3 separate regions of the Homo sapiens genome follow, and all the other regions are linked to region 1. Evidence: fine-mapped expression QTL. A gene starts in region 1. Each other region holds a variant in brackets. All regions are shown on one strand. Distances are between the middles of the regions.

The links.
Region 2: its variant is fine-mapped to the expression of LINC00469 in whole blood (TOPMed, PIP above 0.99).
Region 3: its variant is fine-mapped to the expression of LINC00469 in spleen (GTEx, PIP 0.99).

What each region holds. Positions count from the first base shown.
Region 1 is chr17:73,823,780-73,833,926 of GRCh38, reverse strand. It overlaps LINC00469 (long intergenic non-protein coding RNA 469), which reads left to right and starts at 5,390. Exons shown (of 4, transcript NR_027146.1): 1 at 5,390-5,479; 2 at 10,102-10,147. RefSeq lists enhancers at 3,552-4,051, 4,052-4,553, 5,544-6,053.
Region 2 is chr17:73,756,028-73,766,174 of GRCh38, reverse strand. LINC00469 (long intergenic non-protein coding RNA 469) reads left to right here. Exons shown (of 4, transcript NR_027146.1): 3 at 5,149-5,240. LOC100134391 (a long non-coding RNA gene) reads right to left here. Exons shown (of 6, transcript NR_164140.1): 6 at 9,618-9,865. Among named protein-coding and RNA genes, the nearest start is that of LINC02092, 26 kb to the left of the region's middle. The variant C/G (reference allele first, on the strand shown) is at 4,063.
Region 3 is chr17:73,767,151-73,777,297 of GRCh38, reverse strand. The region is part of intron 2 of LINC00469 (long intergenic non-protein coding RNA 469); the gene reads left to right. Among named protein-coding and RNA genes, the nearest start is that of LINC02092, 15 kb to the left of the region's middle. RefSeq lists enhancers at 6,065-6,564, 6,565-7,066, 9,417-9,917. The variant G/A (reference allele first, on the strand shown) is at 5,849.

The DNA.
Region 1 (10,147 bases):
GTCATGCTCCAGAAGATGGAGAGGCAGTGAGCGGAAGAAGCTGGGAATTACTCATTTTTTTTCATGACTCTAATGGGCTACGAACCTAGCTTCTGTCATGTTCTCCACCACCACCTCCATGCCTTTAATAGGCACCACTGTGTGCATGGCTGCACATTAAGGGGACTGTAGAGAGATGCCAAGAGGTATATGAGCGTGCCTCCATTGGTGAAGGGATTCAGTAGCTTTATTATTATTATTATTATTATTATTATTATTATTATTATTATTATTATTTTTAGAGACAGAGTCTCACTCTGTCGCCCAGGCTTGAGTGCAGTGGCACCATCTTGGCTCACTGCAACCTCTGCCCCCTGGGTTCAAGTGATTCTCCTGTCTCAGCCTCCCAGGTAGCTGGGATTACAGGCGCCTGCCACCATGCCCAGCTAATTTCTTGTATTTTTAGTAGAGACGGGGTTTCACCATCTTGGCCAGGCTGGTCTTGAACTCCTGACCTCATGATCCATCCGCCTCGGCCTCGCAAAGTGCTGGGATTACAGACGTGAACCACCACACCCAGCCAGTAGCTTTATTTGATCCTGAGGGTGGCTCAGAAGATGCCTAGACTTCCTGCCACTAGTAGATGGTTTAGATCCAAGCCTTTAGTTTTTTATTTTATTTTATTTATTTATTTTTTTATTTTTTTGAGATGGAGTCTCACCCTGTCACCCAGGCTGGAGTGCAATTGCACTATCTCGGCTCACTGCAACCTTCACTTCCCAGGTTCAAACTTCTGCCTCAGCCTCCCGAGCAGCTGGTACTACAGGTGCCTGCAACCATGCCCAGCTAATTTTTGTATTTTTAGTAGAGACAGCGTTTCACCATCTTAGCCAGGCTGGTCTCGAATTCCTGACCTCGTGATCCTCCCACCTCGGACTCCCAAAGTGCTGGGATTACAGGTGTGAGCCACTGCGCCCAGCCAAGACTTTGGTTTTTGTTATACGTGGGCAGCACCCAGAAATGGCACTCATCTCCCATTTGCCCTAAACCAATAACACCTTGTGAATCAGTCATCGACTACTGTGTAACAAATAACCCTAAACTTGGTGTGGCCTCAAACAACAACCATATACTCAGTCTCAATTCTGTGGTTTGCCAATTTACAGTGGACTCAGCTGGTCTGAGATGTTCTACTGAGCTTCACTGAGCTCAGCTGCATTCATCTGCACAACTGCTGGGTGGGCTGGAGGCTGGTTGGCCTAGCTGGGCCATGGGCTAGTTCAGGCTTGTTCACAGGTGGTCTTAGTGTTCCACGGTCAAGAGTGGAGGCTTCATGGCCTTAGAGTGGACACATTGTCACTTCTACCAGCTTCTGTTGACCACAGCAAGACAAATGGCCAGTTCAGATTCAAGGGGTGGTGTAGTAGTTTGAATAGTGTCCCCAAAAAATGCGTGTCCATCTGGAACCTCAGAATGTGACTTTCCTTGGAAATAGGGTCTTTGCAGATGTAAATAATTAGGGATCTCCAGGTGCAAACATCCTAGATTTAGAGTGGGCTCCAAATCCAATGACCGGCATCCTTGTAAGAAGAGAGGAAGACACAGAGACAGAGAGACACAGTGAGAAAGACACACAAAGTCAGAGGCAGAGATTGGAGTGATGGAGCTACAAGCCAAGCAAGTCCAAGGATTGACACCAGGAGAGAGATCTGGAGTGGATTCTCCCCTAGAGCCTTCAGAGAGAGCATGGCCCTTCCAACAACTTGACTTTGGACTTATTCTGTTGTTTCAGCCACCTGCTTTATGGCAATTTGCTACAGCAGCCCTAGGAAGCTAATATGGGAGGGAAATAGACTCCAGCTCTTGATGGGGGAAGATGCAAAGTCATATTGCAAAGGATGAGAATACAGGAAGGCAGGGGGAAGTAGAGCCTCTTTTGCAATCTTGCACCTTGGTTTACCAGTCCCCACTTTGTTCCTGGCAGGTGTCTTAAAACCGAAGAGCATCACAGAATGCCAGACACCAGACACTCACCACACGCAGTGGGTGCTATTTCTGCACCAGGCTCCAGAGAGTGCGTTCCTGGGTGCTGACGCTCCTACAGCTGCCTCCTCTGCAACAGCCTCTCTTCCCTGTACAGATTCCTCACCACATCCAGCCAAATTGCCTTCATCTCAGCAGAGGCTGTAGAAGGCAGACGGCCAGGAGAGTGGGGCCGTCAATGCACTGGGTACAGCAGTGATCCTCCAGGATTTTCAACACCTCAGGTCCTAGTGGCCTGGGATGATCTGACCCCAGACACCCTCCCCAGATGCAAGTCCATCCCCAATGCACAGGAAGGAATACATCTCTGGATTGACTAAAACATCATACTGGAAAGGAAGTTTGACAGAGGAAGGTCATTCTCATTCCACAGGCACTTCAAAGACAGGCTTCTCTCTTGGGAGTCGAGCTGTAGCTTCCATGAAGTTTTCAGCACGTTTTCTGAATACCCACCTGTCATCGATGCTTGGAGGTGCAAAGTGGGTTGGATGACTGAATCCTGCCCTTGAGAGCTGACACTGTCACCAACGTTGTTGAGATGGGCTGGAGTCACCCACTGAGCACTCAGTGACTGGTACGCCAAAGGCCAAGGCCTCACGGTGGACACCATGATGAAAACAACATACAATTAGATGGGAGGAAAACATTCTGTTCTTCTCTGGCACAGAAGAGTGGCTATTGTTAATACTAATGTACGGAATATTTCAAAATACCTAGAAGAGAGGACTTCGAATGTGCTCACCGCAAAGACATGACAAATATTGGAGGTGATGAATTTGCTAATTACCCTGATTTGATCCTTACACAAGCTATACATGTGTGGACACATCACACTATACCCCATAAATATGTACAACTATATGTTCTTTTTAAAAGATGGAAACGATGCCAATGTCCATCAACTGGTGAATGGATAAACGGAGTGTGTGTGTCCATATGATGGGATCGCATTTGTCCATGTAAAGGAAGGAAGTGCTGATACACGCCACAGCGTGTGTTGGTGGACTGCTCGGGGCCCATGCACACCTTGTGTCCAGGCTTCCTCTTGCAGGACCAGGATCTTCCCTGTCTCCTTCCACGTTGCTGAAGAGTCACCCTGCATCAGGCAGTGGATCACAGTGGCAGAGTGATGAGCTTGATAGACAAGGAGCAGCCTTCAGGGAGCTTTCACCCAGTAGGGGAAATGGATGAATAACCAACAACAACACCTACTTACAGCTTGTGAAGGTGCCAAAAAGAAACCAGAAAGGTGCCCTGGGAGAGGGGAGCTGGGGTGGGGATAGTGGGTGAGAAGGAGTTGAAATCTGAGCTGGGACATGAGGAACTGTGCTATACAGGGTTGAATAGTGCCCTCCCCTGCCCCCACCACCATTCATATTTTCTCCAGGAACCTCAGAATTTTTTTTTTTTTTTTTTTTTTTTAAAGAATCAGGGTCTTAGTGTGTTGCCCAGGCTGGTCTTGAATCCTGGCCTCAAGCAATCCTCCCACCTTGACCTCCCAAAGTGCAGGGATTGCAGCGTGTGCCACCATGCCCTGCCAGAATATGATCTTATGTGCAAATAGGATCATTGCAGATGTAGTTAATGTGAGGTCATACTAGAGTAAGATGGGCCCTTAACCCAATATGATTTGTGTCCTCATATGAAGGGAGAAGAGACACAGCCATGCACAGAGGAAAGACAGTGAAAGCACAGACACGCAGAGGGAGATGGCCTCGTGACAACAGTGGCAGAGGCTGCAGCGATGCAGCTACAAGCCAGGGAACCCGGAGGATTGGTGGTAACCACCTGCAGCTGGAAGAGGCAAAGAGGATGCTCTCCCACAGCCTTCAGAGGGAACAGGCCCCTGGCAAGACCTTGACTTTAGAGCTGGGCCTCCACAATGATGAGAGAAGCCATTTCTGTTGTTTGAAGGCACCCAGTTGATGGCAATTGGTTACAGCGTCCACAGGAGGCTGAAACAAGAGCGAAGACTGTTCCAGCAGAGGGAGGAGCCAGCGCAGATGACTTCACGAGAAAGTTCCTAGGCCTGCTGGAGCAGCGGCCGGGACGCCCAAAGGAGCGGGAGCCCTACAGGCAGGCAGGGATGGTCCCAGAAGGAGTTGGTGCCCAGCCACAGGGTCTTGTAGACCATGGTGATGATGTTTGTTTTATTCTAAGAACGCTGGGAAGTCATTGAAGGATTTTACAAGAAAGATGAAACATGATTTGAAGTTCATTTTTGAAAGATCGCATCAGCTGCTCTGTGAAGAGGAGTTTTGAAAGAGGCAAGAGAGGAGGCAGGACAGCCACTGTGGCCTGCAGGTCCTCAAACGATTACACAGAGTTACCGTGTGACCCACAGTTCCACTCCTCTGTATAGACCCACGAGAAACGAAAACATATATTCATACAGAAACCTGTACAAAATGTTTAAAGCAGCATTATTTGTAATAGCCCAAAGATAGAAACGACATAAATGTCCACCAATGAATCCATACAATGAGGTAGTTATTTGGCCATAGAAAGGAATGAAGTGCCGATAGGACAGCATGAATGAACCCGGGAACCATCACGATAAGTGAAGGAAGCCATTCACAAAAGACCACGGATTGTATGATTCCATTTAGACAAAATGCCCAGAAGAGGCAAATCTCTAGAGACAGAAAGTAGATTACTAGTTGCCTAGGGCTGTAAGGGTGAGCGTTGGGGAGGGGAGATAGCTGAAGGGTCAGAGCTTCTTTTTGAGGTGATACAAATGCTGTAAAATGGACCACGGTGACGATTGCAGCTACATGGAATATACTAGCAACCATTGAATTGTATACTTTTTTTTTTTAAGTGAAAGCAAGCTTATTAGAGAAGTAAAGAAACAAAAGCATGGCCACTCCATAGGCAGAGTAGCCTGAATTGTCCACTTTAAATGGGAGAATTACATAATATATGAATTACATTTCAATAACGCTGTTTAAAAGAAAAAAAAAAGAGTGAAATCTCAGAGGAGGCCACTGAGCACTCTGGTGGAAGAAAATGGTGACTTAGGCCAGGGTCATAGAAGTAGAGACAGCAAGAAGGGATGAAAACAGTGGATTGTGGAGGCCGAATAGACAACCGATGAATAGGTCAACACCTGCTGTCCATCTGTACGAGGGAATATTATTCAGCCATAAAAAGAAATGAAATGAACCTTGCTGCAACATGATGTTAGGTGAAATAAGCCAGACACAAAGGCCCCATATGGAATGATGTCACTTACACGAGGTTTCTACAATAGGCAAATTCATAGAGACAGAAAGAATGGAGGTTACCAGGAACTGGGAGGAGAAAAGAATGGGACATTATTATCTCACAGTTCCAGAATTTGTTTGGGATGATTTAAAAAAAAAAAAAAAAGCTCTGGAAATAGATCATCAGGATGGTTGCACAATGTTTTGAATGTAAATGCCACTGAATTGTACACCTTAAAAGGGCTCAAATGGTAAATATTATGCTATGTATATTTTACCATGATGAAAATAAACGTACAAAAGTGAGACAGCAGTGAGTCTAGGCCTCCCTTTTAAGAAGCGATGGCATCAAAGAGAGCAGAGGAAGAGAGATGGAAGTTAGGAAGGGGTTTTTCAAAGAGCAGATTCACGGGAAACGATTCATTCGTGCAGGAGAGAAAGGATGAAGGAGGAGCGGGGTCCCTTGAATGTCCACAGGCAGAAGACGAGGGCAGAAGGGGAGGAGGTTGTCTTTGTGGCGGACAGAGGAGCTGTGAATAGGGAGGGAAACAAGGGTGTGCCTTCCGTTTACTCAGCACAGGAAGAAGCAAGGCGAGGAAGAACAGGCTCCTTTTTGAAATGCAAAAGCCTGTTCTTATCTAAACACTCTTGCATAAGACAAACAAGAGCGCTACCCAGTTGGTGACTTGGGACAGGAATGCCTGCCACCCTCTTAAACGTTCTCTCCCCTCCCCTAGCCTAGACTGAAGACCTCGGCCTCCAGCTTCTCTCCCAGACCCTTTCTTGGCTGGATGAGGTCACTCACCCCTTTTGAAAGCTCCACAGGCATTTCTGGACCAAGTTCCCTCACTCTTTTAAATGGTTCTGTAATTGCTTCATTCGCATAAACCTGCCCTCCTGGGCATCTGAACAGCCCCAGGGCAGGGCCTGACTGCAGAGCCAGCTTCCTTACGCCAAGGCCCTCGTGCCTGCGTCCCTCCTCGCCTTCAGCCATGAGGTTGCCTGGCCAGCGGTGGGGGTCGCCTGGATCGTGGGGATGTTCCCCCCACCCACCTGGCCCCACCAGTGAAGGGCCCCAGCTGACACCATCTCTCTTGTTTCCTGTTTTCCTGGGTCAGACCCAGCTGGAGGTCTGCAAATTCTGAAGCAGTTCTCAACCCTGGGTGCACATTTTAATCATTTTTTACAAAATACGAATGCCTGATGTCCAGCCCTGACACTGGTCTGCTTGGTCTGGGGGTGAGGCCCTGGAACGGATGTGTTTAGATTTCCCATGAGACTCTGATGTGCAGCCAGGGTACCAACCTCTGCTCTAAAGCAGGTGAGATTGCCCTGGGGACTTCATTAGAATCAGTGCCCAATTCCTCCACCCCCGCAGAGATTTCGCTTCTGGAAGTCCAGAGTCGAGGTCCAAGAATCTGTGCATTTTAACAATACAGCCCCCAGGGGAGCTTGATGAAGGTCCCTTGGGAAGTTCAGGGCATGGTGCAGGGGACACTGTCTCTCTCTCCTTCCCTCTCATCTGCATCAGCTCCCCAGGCAGGTGGCACTTTCTCTGGACAGGTCTGGAGTCAGGGCTGCAAGGCTGGTTTATGCCTGGAGGTCGGGGGATGATGTGAGGTGTGCATAGAGAGAAGCCCCTGTGAGGAACGGGGACCACTCCTGCTCACCCACATCAGTGACAGCCCAGCCTGGGGCTGGCCCTGGAAGGCCAAAGAGTGAACAGGTCTGGGGGCTGGTGCTGGGTTGAGCTCAAGGGCCTGGGGCTGGGGTCTCCATTCCAGATTCCTCCTTCCCTCTGTCACTTCAAGTACCATCAGAGCCACCTGGGGATTTTGTCCTGAGTCACTCTGAGGCAGAGCAGGTGAGGCTGTGCTGGGGAGGAACATGGGGGCCTGAGCCCCCGACTCCTCCCCATTCCCCCACCTGCCCTGCTTCAAGGACTTGTCTAAACTACACAATGCCAGGCCGGCGCTCCCAGCTTGGGCTCTCACCCCAGGTCCCATTGAGAAGGTGGAGAAGGGTCAGGATGGAAGTTTCAGGCAGGTGGTCCAGGAGAGGACAGTCCTGGGTGGAGTCTGGGTCTTGGGTGCTCTGGGCAGCTCATCACCTTGAGTGTCCAGACTGTCAAGTCCGAGCGAGACAGGCAAAACCCCTAAGTGGACAAGAGTTGGCAGGGACCAGGGCAATGATTAAATCCACTTCAGATCATTTCTGTGGCCGTCTTGTTACCCAGCCCTGGCTATGTGTTTCAATAACGGCTGACAGCGGGTGCAGTGAGCTGGGCTGGAAACTGCCACATCCATCCACCCTGCTCAGGGACAGCTGCTCCCCTATCCACAATTCCCTTGTCCCAGAGGCCAGGACTGAGGCCAGGACACTGACTAGACACCCAGGCCTCCTGGCCTCTAAGAGCCACTCATGGGAGTCATCCACGACATCTGGGGAACCTCCTTGACTTCAGAGGAGGATATTGGAGCCCAAGCTAATTGATGGGTAAGCCAGGACCTGAACACAGGTGGTCAAGCTCCATCCTCCCCTTGGAGAGAGGACACAGTCCTACAGAAAGCCAGACTGCTTGGATTTGAATCCAGGCTCTGCCTCAGACGAGCTGTGTGACTCTGGACCTGGGTCTCAGCCTCTCTGTGTTCCAAGTGTCCTGTCTATTAATGTGGACGATAACAGTCCCTACCTCTTAGGGTTACCATGGGGATTAAATCTGGTAATTTAATTTTTGTCTTTCTTTTGAGTCAGAGTCTCGCTCTGTTGCCCAGGCTGGAGTGCAGTGGTGCGATAGCTCACTGCAACCTCTGCCTCCCGGGTTTAAGCAATTCTCCTGCCTCAGCCTCCTGAGTAGCAGGGATTACAGGTGTGCACCATCACGCCCAGCTAATTTTTTTCTATTTTTAGTAGAGACGGGGTTTCTTCATGTTGGCCAGGCTGATTTTGAACTCCTGACCTCAAGTGATCCACCCACCTCAGCCTCCCAAAGTGCTAGGATTATAGGCATGATTTTTCTTTACACCTCTTTATATTAGTGCTTACCACGTGTCAAATACTTTCCTAAGCACTTTATAAAAATTAAGCTATGGATAGTGACCCCGATGAGGTAGGTCCCACACTTTATACACAAGGAAACTAAGTCACAGAGAGATTAAGGTTATACAGCCATTAAGTGGCAGTTGGAATTCAAGCTGGAGTCTGGTTCAAGGGTCCATCCATGCTCTTCGCTACTTACCATGCTGATGCCCATATGCGTACCAGAAGGCAGTAGGTGCTTAAATGTTTACAGCACCAGTGATTACTATTAGACCTGAGCTGCAGAATTTGTGGCTGATGGTGGCTGGTCTGTGATCATTGTCTGGTGGGTGGGTTGCCCTAGCCCCCAGGCCTTCCTCTTGCTTTTTTTCCCCTCCACTCTTGAAAGGGAAGCTGAAGCTCTGGAAATCTACAACTATCTGCTGTGGGGGCTGCCTGAGCAGGTGGCAGGGCCCTTCTCTCCTGTTCCACAGACGATCTGATTCACGGTGGGCCCCTCGTGGCTGCTCCTGTCCACCTGGGCTACCACTCACACCCCTGCAGCCCTCCCTCCGATCTTCTCAAAGGCATGTGAGATGGTTTGCAAAAACACCCTCAACCCTGAAGAACAATCTAACTGTAAAATGCTCAAGGCTGGGCACAGTGGCTCACGCCTGTAATCCCAGCACTTTGGGAGGCCGAGGCGGGCAGATCACTTAAAGCCAGGAGTTCGAGACCAGCCTGGCCAACATGACAAAAACGGGTCTCTACTAAAATACAAAAATTATCCAGGTGTGGTGGTGTGTGCCTGTAATCTCAGCTGCTCCAGAGGCTGAGGCAGGAGAATCGCTTGAACCTGGGAGGCAGAGTTGCAGTGAGCCAAAATCATGCCACTGCACTCCAGCCTGGGTGACGGAGGAAGACTCCCTCTCAAAAATAAAAATAAAAATAAAATGCTTAAGAAAAATGAAACAAAACAAAAGCAATATCATTGAAATAAATGGCAGGAGGCTGCTTATTGAGGGGGTGTGGGAGAGACAGGGAGAGACAAGGAGAGAAGGTCATTTCCAGGATCTGTTCCTCAGATGGAGCCCAGTATGCACCGCTCTTTCCCAGAGCGGCCCTCTACAGATGAAGTGTCACAGCAAACAGAAAACCACAGATTCAGCCCTGGGGGCTACCAGCTTGGAGACTGGAAGCTTTCTGCTCCTCCTCTTAATTACTTTGTGCTTGAAAACCCTCGTGGCATATTGACCCTCCCAAGAAGCAGTAGGACGGGGGAGGACTCAGGACCTCCTAGACAGTCCTCTGAGTCCTGTCCCTTCATTCCCTGACAGTCAAAAGTGAGATTTTTTCCTCCATAAAGGAAAGGTGAGTCTGCCACTTCAGATTCTCAGCAGGCACTGCCGTCTCAGTGTTCTGGCCTGAACTCTTTGGAGGAGTCGTGTGACTACAAGCCTGAGAGCTGAGGACAGGGCACCCAGGGGATCCCAGGGACCAGCAGAGAGCTCTTTCCAGCTTCCTAGGTGGGTGTCCTGGCCAGTCCCACAGGCCCTTGTTTAATGGTCTGCTGTTGCTGTCTTGAAATTTTAAATCATTTTTCACAAGAATTGCAACATTTTCATTTTGTGCCGCCCTGCCAAGTGAAGTGGCTGCTTCTGCCTGGGGGTGTCAGTGTCCCATGGACATAAGGCACTGAAGTTAAGGGGCTCCTTTCTCCTCCCTCCTGGCATTTTTCACAGCAGGTTTCTCAACCACAGCAGTGGTGACACTTTGAGCTGAATTATTCTTTGTGGCGGGGGCTGTCCCGGGCCTTGCCGGATGTTTAACACCACTCCTGGCATTTACCCACCAGACGTCATCAGCACCCACCCTCCCAGATGTGACAATCAGAAATGTGT
Region 2 (10,147 bases), 68 kb after region 1:
CTAAAACCCAGTTCCCTTAGAAAGGAGATCACTGCCCACTCAACACCTACTCCTCCTTCTCCAGGGAGAGGGCAGGAGAGAACCTGAGCGGGATGTCAGGGGCCTCTCGCACACACACTTGGACACACACACACCCCTACATCCATGCACACACGCACAAACACTACATCCGTGCATATGCACACACACAGGCCCTCACCATCGCAGCTGGGCTCTGCTAGACGTTGGTGAGCTTGTGATTTTATCAAAGTCCAGAGGCGGACATATGTTACGGACTGAATACTTGTGCCACCGCAAAAGTCGTATGTTAAAGCCCTAACCTCGAATGCAATGGTATTTGGGGTATTTGGAGGTGGGGACTTTGGGAGTAGATTAGGCTTAGATCAGGTCATGAAGGTGGACCCCCAAGATGAGATTTGTGTTTTTTGGAGAAGAGGAAGAGAACAAGGCTGCTTCTTTGTGCCACATGAGGATACAGTAAAAAGTCAGCAGCCGGCACGCCAGGAAAAGATCCCTTACCAGAACCCAACCATGCTGGCACCCTGAGCTCGGACTTACATCCTCCAAACTGTGAGGAACAAATGTCTGTTAAGCCCCCCAGTCTATGATATTTTGTTATAGCAGCCTGAGCTACGATAACACACGTTCTGGAAAGAGCCTGAGAGCAAACATGTTAGGCATTTGTTTCAGCTACTCAATGAGGCCAATGTAGCATGAGCAGTCACAAACGATACTGAAATGCACAAGCAAAGCTGCATTCCAATAACACTTTATATGTGGCCCTGGAGCCAAAGTTTGCTGACCCCGTCAAAGGCTAACTATTGGGATGCAGCTGGAATGATTGGGCTTAGGTGGTTCTCGGCGCCTTGGGGGATGATCTCTGTGAGCAGCCCGGCTCCACCAAGGCCCAGGGAGCTCCGAGAAATGATTGTGCTTAGCTGTGAGGCTGTCACAGTTGCAAATATGGGCCATGGGGGCAGGCAGTTCTGGCCCAAATTCTTGCTATATGATCTTAGACCAGGTATTCAACTCTCTGAGTTTCCATTTTCTCATTTCCAAATTGATCATCATAATGGTTCCTTCCTCTCAGGGTCATGGTGGCAGGGCCCAGGGATCATGGGGTGAAGCTGAGTCTGGTCCATAGTCAGTGCTTATGGGTGTCAGCTTCTGGGAGTGTGTTTTGGATCTCAGAGGAGAGTCCTGGTAGGAAGGTTTTAGGGTTTCTCTTCCCTTTTCCCCTCCAAACTTGTTACAATCCTATCTTCCCTTGGGATTGTGCCTCTTCTGAAGAGTCAAAGAGAAGACAGTGGAAAGCCACAGGGTTCCTGGCTTCCCTGCTGCCCCGACAGAGGCAGATGCTGGCCAGGGTGAGCCGACCCCACCCCACCCACCCCTGCCCACCCGTGGCAACCCTTTGTCCTGCCTAGCTATCCTGGCAGCCCTGGCCTGCAATGAACATTATCCTGGAGGGGACCGACCATCCTCCAGGCTACCCACAGTGGGTGCTGGAGAGCCCCCTTCCCCAGCATCCCTGTCATCCAGTGTCTTCCCTCTCCTCCTTCCAGGCTGCCTCCTGCCTGTCAGCTCTCCTCTACACAAGGCCACCCATCCAGAGACGCTCCCTTTTCCCCTGGGAGCCCAAACAGCCTCCTATAACATCACCATGGGCCGAAGAGAAACCTCAGTCTAGAAGGAGTGGTCCATAAACTGTGATCAGGCATTGGAGACAAGATGCCCATGCTGATATTGGTATCAGGAGAGATGGTGCAGGTACCCATCAGGCCAGCTGCCAAAGGTGGAGCAGAGGTGGCAACCCGGGGGCAGGGAGGGGATAGAAATCCCGGTAGTGGCCATGAGCAGGAAAGTGGAGCAGAACAGGTGCAAGGGAGCTTGGGGCCATGGGTTCAGAGAGTCTGGAAGCAGGAACAATTCAAGACCTGGATCCTAGGAGAGCCAGATGCTCAGGAAGGTTAACCAGGAATAACCGTGCTTGGGTGAGAACTCTGGGAGGGAGATGGGCAGGAGATCCGGCAGAGCAGTGCCTGCACGTATTCTTGACTGGCAGATGGACAGACAGACATCAGGCCCAGCAGCGAACTTATTCCACTGTGAAGTGGGTAATAAAACTTTATATGAGGCCCTAGAGTCAGGGCCACATCTAGCCTGAGAAGCCAGTTTGTTGACAGGTCTGAAAAATCCTCCGGAAGTTAATTAGATCACTCAGATCCCATTGAAGCCTTCGCCATCCTCCTGGTTGCTCTTCTAGGTGCTCTGAGTCCCTTGCACTGCCTCTCTCCTAGAGATAGTTTTAATGTATTATAATTACTCGGGAACATATTGATCTTCCTTATTCGCAGTGAGGTTCTAGAGGCAAAGATAATAGTCTTATTTAGCATTATATTTCCAGTGCCAACCACTGGGCCAGTGCAGAGTAGTTGCCAATACGTATCTATTGACGGCAGAAACCAATATAACTTTTCCTGGTGTCTATCAATGTCCCACCCTCACCCCCAGCCATCCTACCAAGCCCACCCACCCTACCATCTTGACACAGCGCCCACTGCCTGGACCCTCAGGGCCTCCTGCTTAAAACATAACTAAGTGGTGTAAAGTCTAGATACCAGCTTCCTTTAAATCATGGTCTGATGTTTTGTGTACTTTAAATAAACCACTGAGTGGATGAGACTGGCAAGACCACCACGGGAGAAGAGACGTCAGGGCTAAGACACAGGGACACAGCCTTGGGGACAGAGGCAGAGATGAAGGTTGTCCCAGCACCAGGAAGTTGGTGGAGACATCCATCTGGGCTCTGTTAGCTGAAAACCTCAGGAGCACCCCTTCCTGGGGTCTGTCTGCTCACCCACTCCCCTTCCAGTCCCCTTGCCTGCTCCTAGGCTGCTGAAAAGAAATGGAATCAACTTCCAGCTGCTCTGCTTGTGGCTGGATTCTTCACTCTTCCCGGGAGATGTCTCCCTCCCACAGGCAATTGGACCAGCAGCCAGGCCTTGGGACTAAAAGAGAGGTCTGAGCGGCGCTTGTGTCACTGGGGCTTAAGTCTTGAACAAAGCCTGTCTGACTGGGTTCTCCCAGGCTGGGTGGGCTGCCACTTAGGGGCCAGCAACAGGGTGCCCTTTTTTTTTTTTTTTTTTTTGAGACAGAGTCTTGCTCTGTTGCCCAGGCTGCAGTGCAGTGGCGTGATCTTGGATCACTGCAACCTCCAACTTCCTGGTTCAAGCAATTCTCCTGCCTCAGCCTCCCGATTACAGGCACCCACCACCATGCCCGGCTAATTTTTGTATTTTTAGTAGAGACGGGGTTTCACCATGTTGGCCAGGCTGGTCTCAAACTCCTGACCTCAGGTGATCCGCCTGCCTTGGCCTCCCCAAGGCTGGGATTACAGGCATGAGCCACCGCGCCTGGCCGACAGGGTGCTTTAACTAGGCTGGCACCTCACTGCACACAGTGAATCAGAGTCTCTCCCACGCTATTTCTGGGCCTGCTCTGTGGGATTCACGCCCTTGTGTGCTCCTGACCTGCAAAACCAGGCCCATTTGTAGCTGTGTTTTTCTCCCAGAAATGAGGCCTAATTGCCTAAAAGCAGAGAGTGTAGGAGTCTTGGCCCACTGCTCACCTCCTCAGCCAAATGAGTTGGAACTCTGACCCCAGCCCCAGTCTCTGGCTCTGTCCTTGCTCCCTTGGGACCTCAGCCCTGCCTGGGATCCTGTTCCCATTTCCTGGCTTTGCACTTCCTTGTCCTGACCATCTTCTGCTGCTTCAGCCCCTCCAAAGCCATATCATGATTCTGCTACCCACTCCCTGCATCTGAGCCCTGCCTCTCCCCATCTGCACCACGCCATCTGCCTGCCCCGAGACCTCAGTGGTCTCTCAAGCCAGTCTCCTCATCATCTCTCATTTTATTCCCATTTCTTTCTACCTGCTCTCCTTGCTTCCAGATCCTGCACAGATCCTCTCTCCAACACAGTGGTTCTCAAACTGTGGTCCCAGGACCCAAAGCAGCAGCACGTGGGAGCTTGTTAGGAATACAAATTCTCTGGCCACAGC[C/G]CAGCCTTGCTGAATTAAAAACTCTTGGGCTGCAGGGACCAGTGATCCGTGTTTCCACCAGCCCTCCAAATGATTTTGATGCAGTCAAGGTTGAGAACCTCTGTGTCTGGCACATCCTCCCTGTAGCTTCTAGAGTGTTCTTTCTAAAATCCAGGACAAGCCCTCTCATTCTCCTGCCCCAAAACAGCACATACCTCTCTCTTGCCTTCAGAATTAACTTTCAACTCTCTTCTTAAGAACAGTATCCAAGGCTCTTTACCATCTTGCCCACACTTTCCTCTCCAGCCTTCTCCTTTCGACTATGGAAGGCCCGGTGGTTCCAATGTTGCCTTTCTGAAGCCTTCCCCATCTTCCTGGTTGCTCTTCTAGGTGCTCTGAGTCCCTTGCACTGCCTCTCTCCTAGAGATAGTTTTAATGTACCATAATTACTCGGGAACATATTGATCTTCCCTATTCTCAGTGAGGTTCTAGAAGAAAGGATAATGGTCTTACTTAGCATTATATTTCCAGTGCCAGCCACTGGGCCGGTGCAGAGTAGTTGCCAATACGAATCTATTGATGGCAGAAATCAATATAAATCTTCCTAGTGTCTATCAACATCCCAGCCTCACCCCCAGCCATCCTACCAAGCCCACTCATCCTACCATCTTGACACAGCACCCACTGGCTGGACCCTCAGGGCCTCCTGGGATCTCCCTCCATCCCATCGTATTCCTGTGAGTGCTTCTAGGCCAGGTCACTTCCAGCCCAGTCATTCTGCTGTCAAACAACTCATAGGAAGAGTGAAGGTGAGGGCCTTCCCGGGACCCCTTGCGCTGGTGGAGATCTGTTCTCCATCCCAGGGGTTTCGGGGGAGACAACCTCAGTATCTCCTTCAGGCCCCATCCAATGGTATGAATGATTCCCAATTCCCAGAGGAAACATGCCCCTGCTTCAAACTACCCTCCTGTGACTGGACTTAAGGCTGCAGGACAGGGCTTGGGGTGATATTCATTTTGCCTGCTCCCCTCTCCCACTAGATTTACCTTCCCAATGATGTCTGCTTGCACCAATATTAAAATGAGCCTTCATTCCCTGTGCACACAGCAACAGCTCGGCAATCTGGAGGCAAGGTGGGAGGTGGAGAAGCACGGAAACGAAGTCTCTGGCTCAACCAGCAAAAGTGAACCACTCCCCAGGTAGGTCACCAAGGATGGTAGTCATTGTTTCAGTGGGATCTGAGTGATCTAATTAACTTCCAGGGGGTTTCTCAGACCTGTCAACAAACCGGCTTCTCAGGTGAGTTTTGCCAAAGGACGGAGCAGAGATGCACAGAGGGGCTCTTGCCGGATACTCAGGTTCAGGTTTAAGGAGCACAGGCACTTTTGAGGCGGCGATAGAACCAGAGTCCCCAGTTCTCTTGGAGCCACCCTTTAGGGCCTGGCCCAGGCTCCTCTGAGCCCTGAAACCCCTCCCACTTGAGCCCCTCCTGTGTCCTTCAAACTGCAGCTTCCGAGGCCATTGGAAGGTAGTGAAGGGGGCGTGGTGTTTGTTTCTCTGTGACTTCCTGGCTGTGGCTGCAGTGAGCAGTTGACTTGTGTCACACTCATCCTCAGTCATGATTAGGCACACCCACACTGTCCCGCTGACCACACTCCAGAAAAAGAGCCTGCAAGGGTCCCTCTGTAAGTGGAAGCAGCCTCCATCTCATTGGCCCTTCTAGAGACCGCCCGGGTCCCCTTCTGCGATGATGCCACACAGACCCACTCCATCCTCTCCCCACACCTTGCCCTCAGGTCGCCTAGCAACCTCAGGGCGGCCAGCCTGGCCAATCACCTAATCACCTGTGGCTGCCAGCATCCACCTGCCTCCCCAGGCTGGAGGGAGCAGGAACTCAAGTGCTCCCCTGCCCCTGGCTTCACCTCCACCCTTCAATCCCCCCCACTGCCCCAGACCTTACAGAGGCAGCACAGTGACCAGCATTTCGCATCTCACCCTTTGCTCCCTGCCCAAGGCCCACTCTGCGGCTTAATCTGTGACATTTAACATAAATGGTTTTCTATTCCCAGCTGACCTTTAATGGCTTTTATCATCAGCTGTGGTTCCTGGCAGCCGTACAAGAGCTGGTGTCGGCTGCCCGAATCTATTCCAACAGAATACCCAAGGAGAGCCCACAGTTTTCGCCACGTGAAGCTGGGGGGGTGCGCCTGGAGATGTCTGCCGAGACTTGAGCTTGCCACTCTCGGCCCGGAAATATCATTATGTGTTTCAATTAGAATTAGTGGGGAAGCCAGTTATTAAGTGGTTAGTTATTATGGTAATGGAGACACTCCACAGTAGCTGGTGCGGGCCACTCTTGCCTTCCTCTAACGGCCACTTTTTAAATCCCTAATCCCTCCCTGATGCTCTGTTTCCAAGTGCAGTAGGATGGAAATGGGAGGGAAGAGACCAGAAAGAGGTGGGTTTTGCATCCCCCTCTTCCGCTCCGTGCCCCTTCCCCCGCCAAGATACCATTCCCAGCAGGTGTGTGCTGTAGTGACATTAGCAAACCCTCCGCCTGAAATCCCAAGCTGTGTCTTCACACCCTCAGAAGCAGAAGTCATTGTGAGGGAGCGCCCACTTCCACCAACCCCTCCGGGCGTCTTTCCTCCCACTCACAGATGGTCACCGTGTCATCATGGAAAGGATGTGAGAGGACCCCTGTGGAGGTTTGGGTTTTGGCAAAGACCCTGCAGATACTGAAGGTGCAGAGAAGTGAATGAGGACTCTCAGGCTGAAGGGCAGGAGAGTGGAGCTCTGGGCCCATCCTGCGAATAACCTTAGGCAAGTCACATGTCTTCCAGGAGCTCCAGCCCCTCCCTGCATACTGAAGGTTCCGACCAGCTCTCAACCCTTCCTCTGCTCACCTGAGGGACATGGCATTCCCTCCTCAGGGGTGACAGCCCATAGCCGGGTAAATCAGGGATGCTTGCCCAAAGTCACTGCAGCAAAGTTGGGCAGAGGCATGGCAGAGTCTGGAGTGGGGGTCCCGGTACCCTGCTCCCCTCCCTCACTGATACTCAGTCCTCTCTGCCTGGAGGAGATACTTGCAGAGGTGCCTTCTTATCTTGCCTTTTTTTTTTTTTTTAGGCAGGGTCTTGCTCTGTCACCCAGGCTGGAGTGCAATGGCACAGCTCACAGCTCACTGCCGTCTCAACCTCCTGGGCTCAGGTGGTCCTCCTGTTTCGTTTTTTTTTTTTTTTTTTTTTTTTTTTTTTTTTTGTAGAGATGGGGTCTCACTATGTTGCTTGGGCTGGTCTCAAACTCCTAGGCTCAAGTAATCCTCCCACCTCAGCCTCCCAAGTAGCTGAGACTACGGGTATGTGCCACCACACCTGGCTAATTTTTTTTTTTCTCTCTCTTTTTTTTTTTTTTCTGGTAGAGACGGGGTCTCCTATGTTGGCCAGGCTGGTCTTGAACTCCTGGCCTCAGGCAATCCTCCTGTCTCAGCCTCCCTTAGTGCTGGGATTATAGGAATGAGCCATCATGCCTCGCCCCCATCTTGCTTTCAAATATTCCTCTCCCACCATCCCTCCCTCCTCCTTCCCCAGGCCTGAGTAGGTCGGTAGCTTCTCTGCAGTCAACAGGCAGAGCTCACAGCCTTGGTTCCAGCCTTCACCAGCCACAAACCCTGAGGCAAGTGCAGAGCCCCTGGTCCTCCCTTTCCTTATCTGATAACGTATCATAAGTGATGCAAGGGAAGCCATCTACACGGGCTGGCAAGAGGCGAGGACGGTTATTGGTCATGATTATTGCTGTTATTATTTTAAAGACCATCAGAGCGGAAAAAAGAAAAGAAAAAAAACAAAAAAAAAACAAAAACAAAAAAACAGGAAGCAGCCCACAGTGGCTTCCTTATCCTTGAACTCTGACAGGTCTTTAAGGAGGGGAAGGAAAAGAGATGCAGAGACCAAACAGGAGGTGAAAGGGGCAGAACAGAATGGAGATGACTAGGAAGAAAAACAGAATGGGAAGCAAAGAGAGAGAGAGAGGAGAGAAAGGAGAGAGAGAAAGAAGAGAGAGAGGAGACAGAGAAGAGAGAGGAGAGAGAGGAGAAGAAAGAAAGAAGAGGAGGGGAAGGGAAGGGAGGGGAGGGGAGAGAAGGGGAAGGGAGGGGAGAGAAGGGGAAGGGAGGGGTGAGAAAGGGAAGAGAGGGGAGGGGATGGAAGGGGAGAGGAGGGGAAGGGGAAGGGAGGGGAAGGGAGGGGAGGGGAGGGGAAGGGAAGGGAGGGGAGGGGAAGAGGAAGAGAGGGAAGGGGAGGGGAGGGGAAGGTAGGGGAAGGGGAGGAGAGGGAAGAGGAGGAGAGGCCCGTGGGTGGTGGGGTGGGAGGCTGGTGGAGGGAGAGCTGCTTAGTTTGTTTCCTTCTGCTCAGCTGTGCCAACAAAAAAGAAAAGGAATCTGTGAAGCCCAGACAAGGTGGCCGAGTCGCAGTGCCGAAGCGCAGCTCAGTGGAGGAGGCGGCAGGCACAGGGCCCAGAGAAAATTATCTTTCTAACCACTACGTTGGTACCATAATCACCTTCACGCAGCAGCTCTGGTTCCTGGGGGAGGGGCCACTGGAGAGCCACTTGGTTTGATTCCTTTAATCTTTTGACACCGCCTGTCACGGAGGAGTGTGTAATTAGGCCGCACTGTACCTTCCCAGCAGCCCAAGCCGCATGCACCTCACAAGATGAGAGCAGGTGCTACTGGAGCCGCCGGGCCAGCCTGGGCTCTTAATTGGCTTATGTGCTTCTCCTGGAGTCTGTCCTGTTTTTCCAGGTTTGCAGCTACCTCCTGGACCGTGGTGGGGATTGCTCTCTCAAGGGGTCTCTGAGGGACCAGGGACCCTGCCGTGATGCTGGTCTGGGGGCAGGGTGGTGGCAGGTGAACTCTGGCCCAACCAGCTAATGGCCTGAGAATGTGCTCTGCCTGCCCTGAAGAGCTCCCTGACCCCAAAGACCCTGCTGTGCACACATCTGAACCCCCATCCCTGGTGTCTGCACCTTGCTATAAAGAGTCAGCCACGGAGACGTGTGGCGACCGCAGGAGCACCGGGAGGGAGGCTCTCCTCGCCTGGGAAGGGACCAGCCTCTTGTTTTCTATGGTGGACAGGCCAAAGAGATACAGCCTCAAGCGTTTGAGGATTTGGAAAATGGAAGAGATTTGAGGATGGCCAGGAGGGGTTTGGAGCCCTGTTTTGCTCAGCAAAGAGCAGAGTAAAACAAGGCTGTTTATTCAGGCCCTAAATGATGGGGATGCTGGCATCTGCCCAGCAGCCCACACGCTGGGGGCATGTGCTCAGGCAGCGCTGCTCCCTCCTTCTCCCTGGAGCCTCAACCTCTCCTTGGGTATGCAGGAATCTTCCTCTCCATCCCGCAGCGGCAATTTTAGACAAGGGTGGCAACTTTCCCCTCTTCCACAGCCAGCCCCTGCTCAGTAGTCTTCCTGCATGAAAAGCTGAACAGGAGCCCCTGGTCTAATCCCCCATCTGGGAGCAGCGGGGCTTCATGTAAAAGTGTGGAGCCAACCAGAGCAGGGATTGGGGGTGACCTAGGGAGGGGCCACGTACAAGGATGCCCTGGCCCATCCCTGAATGTCCTACACCACTCTGCTAGTCCTGGAAGGCCCAGGCATGGACAGGAGGGCAGGGCACCCTATTGAGGGTCTGCAGGATTCTGGAAGGTTGAATGTCATGGTGATAATCAGCTCAGCTCTGGGGTCCAAACGCCACTTCAAATCTCAGCTTCACCGATAGGGGTGACCATAGGCATGGTTTAACCTCTTTATGCTCTGTCTTCTCCTCTGCAAAATGGGGTAGTAAAGCAATTCTTGAATCATAGAATTGCTGTGAGCACTAAAGCGGATAGCTAAGGCAAGAGCTTGGCATGGGAGACAAGCTCCACAAAGTCAGCTGTAGGGTTCCTTCAGCATTGTCTCATCAAGTCCCTTAACCCCAAACAGGACAGGAGCCCAGGAAGTTTTGAGATCCTAGATTATTCTACCGAAAGGTGGCTTCTAGGTCTCCCAGCCCACACTTCTCCAGGACGCCCATCTCAGCCACCCCAGGTCCCACTTTTTTGTTCA
Region 3 (10,147 bases), 57 kb after region 1:
GAAGAATGATGTGGGATTCTGGGCAGTTTGAAGCAGAGCCGGCAGCATTTCCCAATGGATGGAATGTGGAGTGTGGGAGAAAGAGATGCATCTGTCCTGGCTCATAGATGTGTGGCCCGAAGAACAAACTGGAAGGACAGGGTTGCTCTATGCCGAGATGTGGGAAGAGTCTGTTTGCTTTCTGAGTGTGGCAGCTCCCTCTGAGGATGAAATCACAGCATAACACATTGGAATGGCAATAACTGCCTTGAGACAGAGGTGTTATATCCAAGAAAAAGCGCTTTCAGAGGAGGCTGTGGTTGAAATAATAATGATTGTTTTGATGCATTCCGTATCCAACTGATGGAAAGCACACTTAGCAAGTCAAGAAAAACATGAAAGAATCCAAAGGGCTCCAGGCCAAGACCCAAGTTGACATCCTAAAGCCGCCTGGGAAGTTGAGAGGAAATCGTCTCCCTGCCCCTCCTGGGAGTTGGGGCAAATGGCACCATGAGGACCCTAGCCTCCACCGGGGCGTCTTGGGCCACATCTCGCTCCAGCAGTCAAGCCTCCGAGCTGCCGATGTACGGATGTGGTAAGGATTGCCGATGACTTTTTCATCGCTTTTACGGCAACTCTCACTGCATCCGCCATTCTTTGCAAGGAGAATGTGAATGAACTTCAGATTGAACTACAGACAGAAGAAATTCTTCCTGCCAAAGACACTTAAAACCCCTCCCGTCGGCACCGAGCCCCAAGAATTCTGATTGTGGCAGAGAAAAAACAGCCAGCAAAGATAATACCAAATAGTATAAAAATAGAGTGGGCTTAAGGCAGAGAGACAGAGAGCTGTAGTGTCTCACGCTCACTACAAACATTTACAGAGCATGCAGCTGGGAGGCAAGACCAGCCAAGGAGATACCAACGCCACGAAGCTCTGGGCGAAAGAATCTTGCTAATACTGACATCCATTTCTTCGGGCCTTCATTTGATGAATATTGAGGTGTACAAAGCTCACAAAGGTGTCACGTCCAACATGTCTCTGATGGCGCTGATAGACCGAAGGGGACTGTTTTCAACAATTTGAGCCAAGGTGCTGATGTCCGGCGTGTGAAACCTGGGTAAGCAACCATCTCCAACACAGGCATCTCCATGGGCAGGGCATAAGCCACGCTGCCCAGGACCACCTGTCCCCGCTCCCTGCCTTCACGATCATTCTGTTTTTACCCCTGGGGTTAGGGATCGGAGGAAGGCTGCAGTTTCCTAGCGACCATCTGTCCCTCATCCTTACTATTCCCTGTTTCTGCTTGTGAGGGTGACGTGGGTTTGCGCCTGGGAAGGGCATCTTGTAAGGCTTTCTGTTTGTCAATCTGTGAACAAATATCTATATCCAGTTTACTTCAGGCCAGGCCTGTGCTAAGCGCTGTCATGTAATAGGCTCTCAATAAATATTTGTGAGGCTTCAGGGATATAAACCTTATGAGCCTACCTGGACAGAAAGCCAGGTCCCTTCTCCAAAAACTTCCAGACATTTTCCCTCGAAGCAATGTCCAGGGAGAGAGGCCAGTGGGACATGGACGGGGGTACCCAGGATGGGTAGGGGATGGGACCTCAGTTCTCTGCATAGAGTCCCCACGCACCAGGCATTTGCCAGGTCTGCTGTGGCAATGACGTCCCACCCTGTTAGTTTCTCTCACTTCCAAAGCTCCAGGAAAAGCACTCAAGCCTTGGTAAATACAGTCTCTCAACTGCAGCCCTCACCTTCAAACCTGATTCCTTCTCTCCAGCCCTCAGCCTTGACTGTTCGAGTGAACCTGGTCAGCATTTCTGACCGACCTGTCACTTGGGTCTCTAGTCTCATGCTCTGGGACTAATGGATCACATCATCTGGGACAGGTGCCCATGCCTGGGCAGACCCATATACATGCAGTCCTACTCGGTTATAAATATCTATGGAGTGCAATACCAAATAATTGTGGGGCATATTTCACCCTGCCTGTTGAACACATTGCAAGAAAGGAATTGATCCCTGCTGTTTCATTTATTAGATGGTGTAATACCACAAAAATCGTTTCCACAGTATCCCAAACTAAATCATTTATTCTTGACAAAAATCCAATAAAGAGCTCAATCCTTCTCCATAGGCAGATAAAGCACAGATTAATGGGACTGCCTAGATCAAAAAATGCTGGGAAAATGAAAGCAAGATAGAGAGAGAAGCCTCCTTCCTCCTCCTCACTTCCCCAAGACTGCCTCGGCTCAGGGTTTTATTACAAAAAGCCGCCTAAGTATTACAGGCTAATCCGTAAATCCCAGCCTAGTAAAATATGTGACGGATTTGTAAATTGTGCCCTTTACAAATCTGATTGAACTTTTTTTTTTTTTTGGCTGGGAATTTTGCCTTTCTCCTTTTCCTCTTCTTCTCACCTTGTCCCATCTCGCTGGGTCCCCAGTGACCCGGAACCCTGCATCTGACAGTGTGGGCCCCCAGCACTGGCAACATTCCTGGTATGTTCAGCCCTTCCATGACCCTTCTATGACTTGACTGACAGAGGGTGGAGATTGTTGGTGGTACGAGAGGCTGAGAAAACCATCATTCTCTTTATTTACCATCTAAGGGGAAATGAGATTCAGATGGGGCCAGGGCCCCAGGGCCAGGCGTAGCAATGTCAGGGGCACAGGGCATGCTTGCAGCCAAGTATGAACGTGGTGAAGGATTTGTACATTGTTTCCAGTGGAGACAGGAGTAGATCAAGCTGGTGACCTTCAGATCCACAGACTGGCTGCTCAGAAGAGCCTTTGCCTTGGCTGGGCGCGATGGCTCACGCCTGTAATCCCAGCACTTTGGGAGGCTGAGGTGGGCAGATCACGAGGTCAGGAGATTGAGACCATCCTGGCTAACACGGTGAAACCCCATCACTATTAAAAATATATATATACAAAAAATTAGCCGGGCATGGTGGCAGGCGCCTGTAGTCCCAGCTACTTGGGAGGCTGAGGCAGGAGAATGGCGTGGACCCGGGAGGCTGAGGCAGGAGAATGGCGTGAACCCAGGAGGCAGAGCTTACAGTGAGCCGAGATCATGCCACTGCACTCCAGCCTGGGTGACAGAGCGAGACTCCATCTCAAAAAAAAAAAAAAAGAAGAAGAAAAAAAAGAAGAGCCTTTGCCAGCAAATCTCATTCTGCCCACTGACTTGAGCCCACTACCTTCAACCACCCAGAGCAGGTGGTTCTCCAGGGTCCATCCACTGTACCTGGTCCACACTGTCCTTGGCGTGCACTCCATCTAGGGTACCAACCATCTCAGTGTGCCCGAGACTGATGGGGCTCCCAGAAGGCAAGACTTTCAGTGCTAAAAAGTCTCAAGCAAACCGAGATGAGTCACTCGCTGGCTGTGCATCCTCTGCCTGAAGTTCTGGGCCTTCTGCACCCTGAGAAGAGCTAATCACTCAGGCCAGCTTTTAGCTTTCTCTGCCTGAAACCACTTCCCTTGCAGAAGCAGAAAAGTGCCCGAGCAATAGCATGGGCTTGGTAGTCATCCAGCCCTGGGTTTGGGTTCAGGATACCCGTGGCCATTGGAAAGTCACATAGCCTTTCTCGGCCTCAGTTTCCTCATATGAAAAGTGGAGATAATAATACCTACTTAATTGGATCATTGTGCTAATTAAATGAACAACAAAAGTGAAGCATCTAGCATAGAGTAAGCACACGGCAATATCATCATCATCATCATTGTTTGAACACATCTCCTTAAGTAAGACTGAAAAAGAAAAGTATGACAATGGTGAAAAGCCCTTTGAAAGCTGGTGCAATGACAACCCCCCGACCATCTCACTAGAGATATAGCTCCTTATTCTTGCAATCTGAGCACTGGCCAAAGCCCAGATGTCAGTCTTTAAAGGAGCCAGTAATGCGAGCCGCTGGGACGCAGATGATAGGATGGAAACCAGGTCTTTCTGCTTGGTGCTGTGCCTCACATAGTTTCAATCTATGGGGCTATACCCCAGCGCCCCAGGAAAACGACTGCTTCCTCTTCTTACAGATTTTACAAAGGCAAAGGAAAGAGCCACCTGGGATGGTTGCCCTATCAACTTTCCTCAACCACCGCCCCCTACACACTTAGGCCTGTCCAGCATGGAAGCAGGGCTAGAGAAACAAGGAAAGGAGAACGGTCCTGGACCAGCAGCCTGGAATGGCATTTCACAGGCTCTAGAAATGTGATAGAGAGTACCAGCCCTGCAAACAAGAGTGCTGCTCCCTGATCCTGCTCATCCTGTTGCCGTCTGGGGGTGAAATTGTCTTCAGAATTCTAGATTGATTGACTGCTGGGAAGTTCGTCCTGCTGTTCCACCTCCATCCCTCCCAAGGATGAGGGTGCCTTTGGAAGGGACAGGTGCCCATGCTTGGGCAGACCCATATACATGCAATCATACTCGGTTACAAATACCTAGAGAGTGCAGTGGAGGCAGTGGGGCAGTGGAGAGCTCAGGACCTTTTCCAGGTCCAAGAGCCTAACAACACTGCATCTTGCTTGGGTCCTAAGATAGGCCTTCTGCAATGAGGCAGGGAAACTAGGAACAACTTGTAGATAGGGGATTTGCCTCCCCAGAACACTCTAAAAAAGTGGAGTTCCCATCTGCTGTGTTTCTGAAAGCAGAAGGAGTGGATTCTGTGAGCTCAGGCTGCTCCCACAGAGCCAGGGTCCTCCTTTTTGTCCCTTGGAACATCCAGTTGGCGCCTCCACTGCCCCAGTCAACCTTTATCCCTCTATTTCCTGCTGAGAGTTAATCTTATTTCCTGCCTTCTGGGTGTTTAGCTTGGCAACCCAGAGAGCCACTCAGCTGGACCTCTCCCATTCTGCTGATCACAGCTGGGAGAAGGTTAGAGAATGTGACTCCCACAGCCATGGCCCTGGATGGGGTCTCCCGGGCAGTTTATCCTGCCATTGTGGTTCTTGGCATTGAGATGCAACGATTCTAGTTCTGTTATTGAGGGGGTGCTGTGTGGGTGTGAGGGAAGCAGGTGATCGGTCAGGGGGTTGAGGGGCAGTTGCCAGGGTGTGGGAGGGGAGGGGGAAAGCTGTGCCCATTACTCTTTTGTGGACTTGGAGGTGAAAAAAAAATCAATGAGACATCCTGTTTCAACTCATCCTGAGTTCAAGTTTAAGGGCATTTGAAAAAGTGCTCGTTTTCTTTTCTGGGGTGGGTGGTCATGACATGAAAGAGGACGTACCAAAGGATGGGGTTCCCATTCAGTGGGAGGTTTCATGGTGTCATCCCTCCACCCATCACTCAAAAGGCCTAAGATCTGGGAGGCAAGATGAGGTCTTTGTAGATAGCACAGGCTGGGGTCTAGGTTTGGGAGCCCCTTGGTCATGACCTGGCTCCCATTCCCATACCCCTGTTGCTCCATCGAGAGCCCATAGATCAACCACCAAAGCTCCATTCAGGGTCTTGTAGATTTCGTTCCCTCATGGAGGATTTTAAAGGGAAGGAGGGCAGCTAGCAAGGCCAAGAGGCATGAGAAGCAGGGCCCCTGTGTTACCACCACACCAAAGCTTACCTGAGTGGAGCTTGGCAGCTCTGTTCCCCCTGATTCTCCCAGGCATCCTTCCAGAAGTCCTAAAGTCAAAATGCCAGAGATCTGGCCACGTGGGTTCCTGCTAGCTTGTCCCAGCCAGCACCCAAGAGACCACAGGGCATGATGAGTAGAGGGAGTGCCAGAGCAAACTCATTGGACTCAGGGTGAGCATCTCAGTAATTTCTTATTTATTGGCCTCCTCCAGTCCCACAATCACTGGTTCTGCTCAATATTTTATTCTTGTTGCACCTACTCAGGCGGCAGAGCTGCAGGCATTTTTGATAAAT[G/A]GATTGAAAGGTTTGTCTACTTTTGCTGAAGCTTCCATAAGTGCCTCTGTATCCTCCACTGAAATTATATTTCCCAACTTCCTACAGTGATTTCTCTCCCCTCGTGACTCCTCTCTTCCTATTTGCTAGGTCTTGTGCACTCTGTCTCTCTCTTCTCCCCATCTCCTACAAACACATACACACACACACACACACACACTCATGCAGAGATGCCCATATCCATGAACTCACAAACTTAACTACCCCTATGACCACTCAGGGGAGCAATATACAAGGGACCAGAGAGTATATCTATCCATTGACAGGGACGCACATACAACAGCCATGCACACAGTACATCCCCTCAGGCACACGAATATAGATGCACACATGAGCTGTGGCTTGTGATTGAAATCTCCATGCTGCTCTTTCTAAGCTCATCCAGACTCAGACCCTGATGGCAGGCTGCAGAGACCACAGGTCCACCCTGAGCAAGGGAGGACACAGATGGGCAGACGCCAAGGAGAAGCATGGTGCCCCAGTGATCCCCGCTGGGGACCCCAGTGAGCCTTCGAAGAGCCCTGCCCCATCAGCGGGCTGACTCCCCCAGCCCTCCTCCAGCCCTCCTTCATCCTCACCCGCCTGCCTGGCCTCAGCAGCCCCAGTGGGCCAGCTGGAGGCTTTATCCCAGCCACATCTGAAACAGCTCAGGAGCTGTGCCTGGCCGCCAGCCGTTTCCATAAATAACTTGCTGGGCCTGGCTCCTTGCCCTCCTGGTGATGTCATTGGCCTTGGCCCAGATGATGAGGTCACAGGCTTCCCTTCCCTCGCCACTCCCTTGGGGTGGGATGGGGGAAGCATGAGACCTTCTTCACAGAGCCTGTCTGCCGAGAACCTGCCTGTCTGCGCCCCATCCTGTTCCAGCCCGGCCAGGCAGTGGATGTGGGTTCTCCACCATCTGGGACTGCCTGCATGGTGGTGCCAGATGGCAGCCTTCCCCCTCCTTGTCACCAGTTCCTGAACAGCCTCCCAACTTTTCCATCTCCCCACTGCCTTCTCCCCTTGTCATGATGTGATTTCCAGGGGACAGTGGACTTGGTGCCCGGATGGAGCTCCCCCTAGGTCCAAATCCTGGCTACCCCACCCACTAGCTGTGTGACTCCGGACAAGATGCTTCACCTCTCTGTGCCTCTGTTTTCTCATCTTTAAAATGGAGGCACTGATAGGACCTATCTCAAGGGTTGTCGTGAGGCTGACATGGGCTCATACCTATAAAACACAGTGCCTGGCGCATTAGTAGACAAATAAATTGATTCCATGATCACACTTCCCTGTGCCTGCGTGTGCTGGGGAGAGGGGAGGCTCTTGCTTTGTGCATTTTCAAATATGTGGCAGGCAGAGGCACCCGTGATCTCCTGTCTGTGGCTCTCACATCCCCCACAGTCACCAAAGATTCCATTTTCCCAACTTGGGCTCTCCCCATCGCCTCATTCTATTCCAGTGGTGGCCCCAGCTGATTCCCAGAATCATTGCTTTGGTCCTGGAAGTGGGAATGGCCAAGATGTGAGAGGGTCTTTGAGAGCTCCAAGGTGTTCTGAGGCCCCACAGCCACCCCACTCCACAATTACCTCCAATAGAAGAGAGCCAGACTCCCTCCCTGGCCAGCACTAAGGTCACCAACATGAACAGTATCAGACAACACAGAATGACCAGCCAGGAGCCCGTGGGCATTGGCTCCAGATGTGTGAGTTTGGAGAATGCCCTGCGGAGGCCATGGGGAGATGGCCGTCTCTGGACTGGAGAGTGGAGAAGTTTCACTGTGATTTCATCACTGTGCTGTTGGATATGACAGCCCTGAGCCACATGTGGCTATTGATCACTGGACACTGGGCTAGTGAGGTGCCTGAAGTGTGGGATACACACAGGACTTTTAGGACCCAGTATGAAAAAGAGATGGCAAGATATCTCATAAATAATTCTTTTATATTTATTATGCATGGAAATCATGGCATTTTTCATATATTGGGTTAAATGACGTATGCTATTGTGAGCAATCTCACCTGTTTCTTTTCACTTTTTTTTAATGTGGCTGCTGGAAAATGTAAGGCTACACGTGTGGGTTGCGGTGTCTTTCAATCAGGTAGCCCGGGCCTGTTCTCTCACTGAGTGCTAGAAAACATTCTTTGGCTCCCATCCCGAGGGTTCTGACTTGGTGAATGTGGTGTCTTCCGGAGCTTAGGGCTGCTGCCTTCAGCCAAAATATGCCCGCACCCCTTCATCAGTATCTGGAGAAGACCGGGACTGGGCACTGTACCAGGTGCTCTGGTTTCCTCCCCACGTGTGGTCACCGCCTGCCCACCATCCTGAGCTCAGCCTTATATATTTAAGGGGGGGCTCCCTAAATTTGGCCAGAACACCCCCAGGACATCAAGCACTCAGTGCCACGTGGCCCCTCCTATTCTTCCCGCCACAGCTTGTAGCACCTGCCTAGAAGTTGTGCCTCTCTTCTCCCTTCATGTAGATCTTATTCATGCTTTAAAACCTAAATCAGAAGTCACCTCCTCCATGAAGCCTTCCTGGACCCCTCCACTGGATGAGTCACTCTGGACCATCATAATACTTTGCCTCAAACTCAGTGAAGCTGTTTCTCAGAGTGTGTGTCCTGATAGAAGGTGTTACATGCCAGGCCATTTCTGTTCACATAAATCTTCATCACAATCTCAAGAGGCAGAAAGTAGGATTATTCTTATTTTCTATATGAGGAAACTGAGGGAGAAAGATTAAGCATCTTGCCAAGGTGGCAGAGTTTATAGTAAAGAAGCAGAATTCCTGCCCATGGGGTCTGATTCCCAGGTCATGCTCTATCTGTCATGCCTGATGGCCCAGTCACAGGTAGCATCATTCCTGGTACCCCCCCAAAAGACAATGACAGTATTGAGAGTGGGGCCCCAGTTTATCCATCACTGTAATCCCCATGTTATTCACTCAGGTTTAGGCACACAGTAGGTGCCCAATAAATGTGGACTGAATGAAACCAGCATTTAGTTATTAGCCTTACTGTGCTTTGAAATTGGGTCCTAGTACCCATGTCCCCAAGGCCAGCCCTGGCCATCTCCCACCCCTCACTCCACCCACCTCCATCCTGCCTTCAAGGCTCAGTGGCCTCTCCGTACCTCCCCAGGGAGTTTTGAACTGTGCTTGTTCAAAACTCAGTTATTGTCGTGCGACCTCTGTTAGCCAGAAATTAATTCCCCAGGTTACCACTACATAAAAACTCAACTCTTTTTATGGTCTCTATATGCCTTGCCCTTTCCTCTTATGCAGGTCTCTCTGTACTTCTAGGGAATAAATAAATACAGTGTAACTTTTAGCAGACTTTATCCACTGTAGCCCTCCGGGCACCGTGGGGCCTGGAGCCAGCTAGAACCCCAGCTGCATCTGGGGGTTGGCAGGTGGGGCATTGGGAGGATTCTGTGTCTCACCCTAGAGCTCTCTGTTCTGGGGACTCCCTGGGTCTTCACCAGCCAGGCACAATCCCCATCGTGGTCCATGGCTGCACCCCTCCTGCCAAAGCTCCCTTGAGGAGTTGTTGCCCCCTGCTGCACCCACTCCTTGCACCTGTAACCACACTTGACAGTGGTGAAATTGGCAGCAGCGGAAGGAACGCCCACTGAATTTCAGTAGTGGGTCAACCCCAGTGCTGATAGAGGCTGGGCCAAGGGGCACAGCGTTCGGGGACTCCAGCTACTGAAACCCCCTCCCATCCCAGGGAAAGGCATCAGAGAAGATTTTTGTCTGGCTTCTAGACCATGCCCTGTGATTCCAGAGGGTCCCTCATGTAGGTGGTGGGGTCTACGACTACCCTGGAGCCATGAAGCTCCCCTCCCGCATTTATATCAGGGCTGAACAATCTCCACCTTGCTCATGTCCCAGTGGGACCTGGACTCAATGGTATGCTTGCTAGTCTGGGATCAAAGGCCAGTAACTCTGACAATGTTTCTCATCAGGAAGGCAGGGGGACATCTCTGTTCTCCTAGTTCCCACAGAAAGATCTATGTGTGGGTTGAGTCAATACTCTGTTGGAAGAGAGAAGCTCTAGTCTCTGCAGGGACAAGCCAGCTAAGGGCCCTGTCAATTTCATTTCCCTTTCACCATTTAACCAAGAAACATCCCAGTCTTTTTTTTTAAAAAGTCTCCATGTAGTAAATGATGATTAACACCAAAAAATAAGGGCCTCTTTCCTTTCCCCTTCTAGTTTTCCTATGTTTGAATCCCAGGGCAAAACCACCTTGTTAGGTTGCCTGGTCCGTATATCCACCT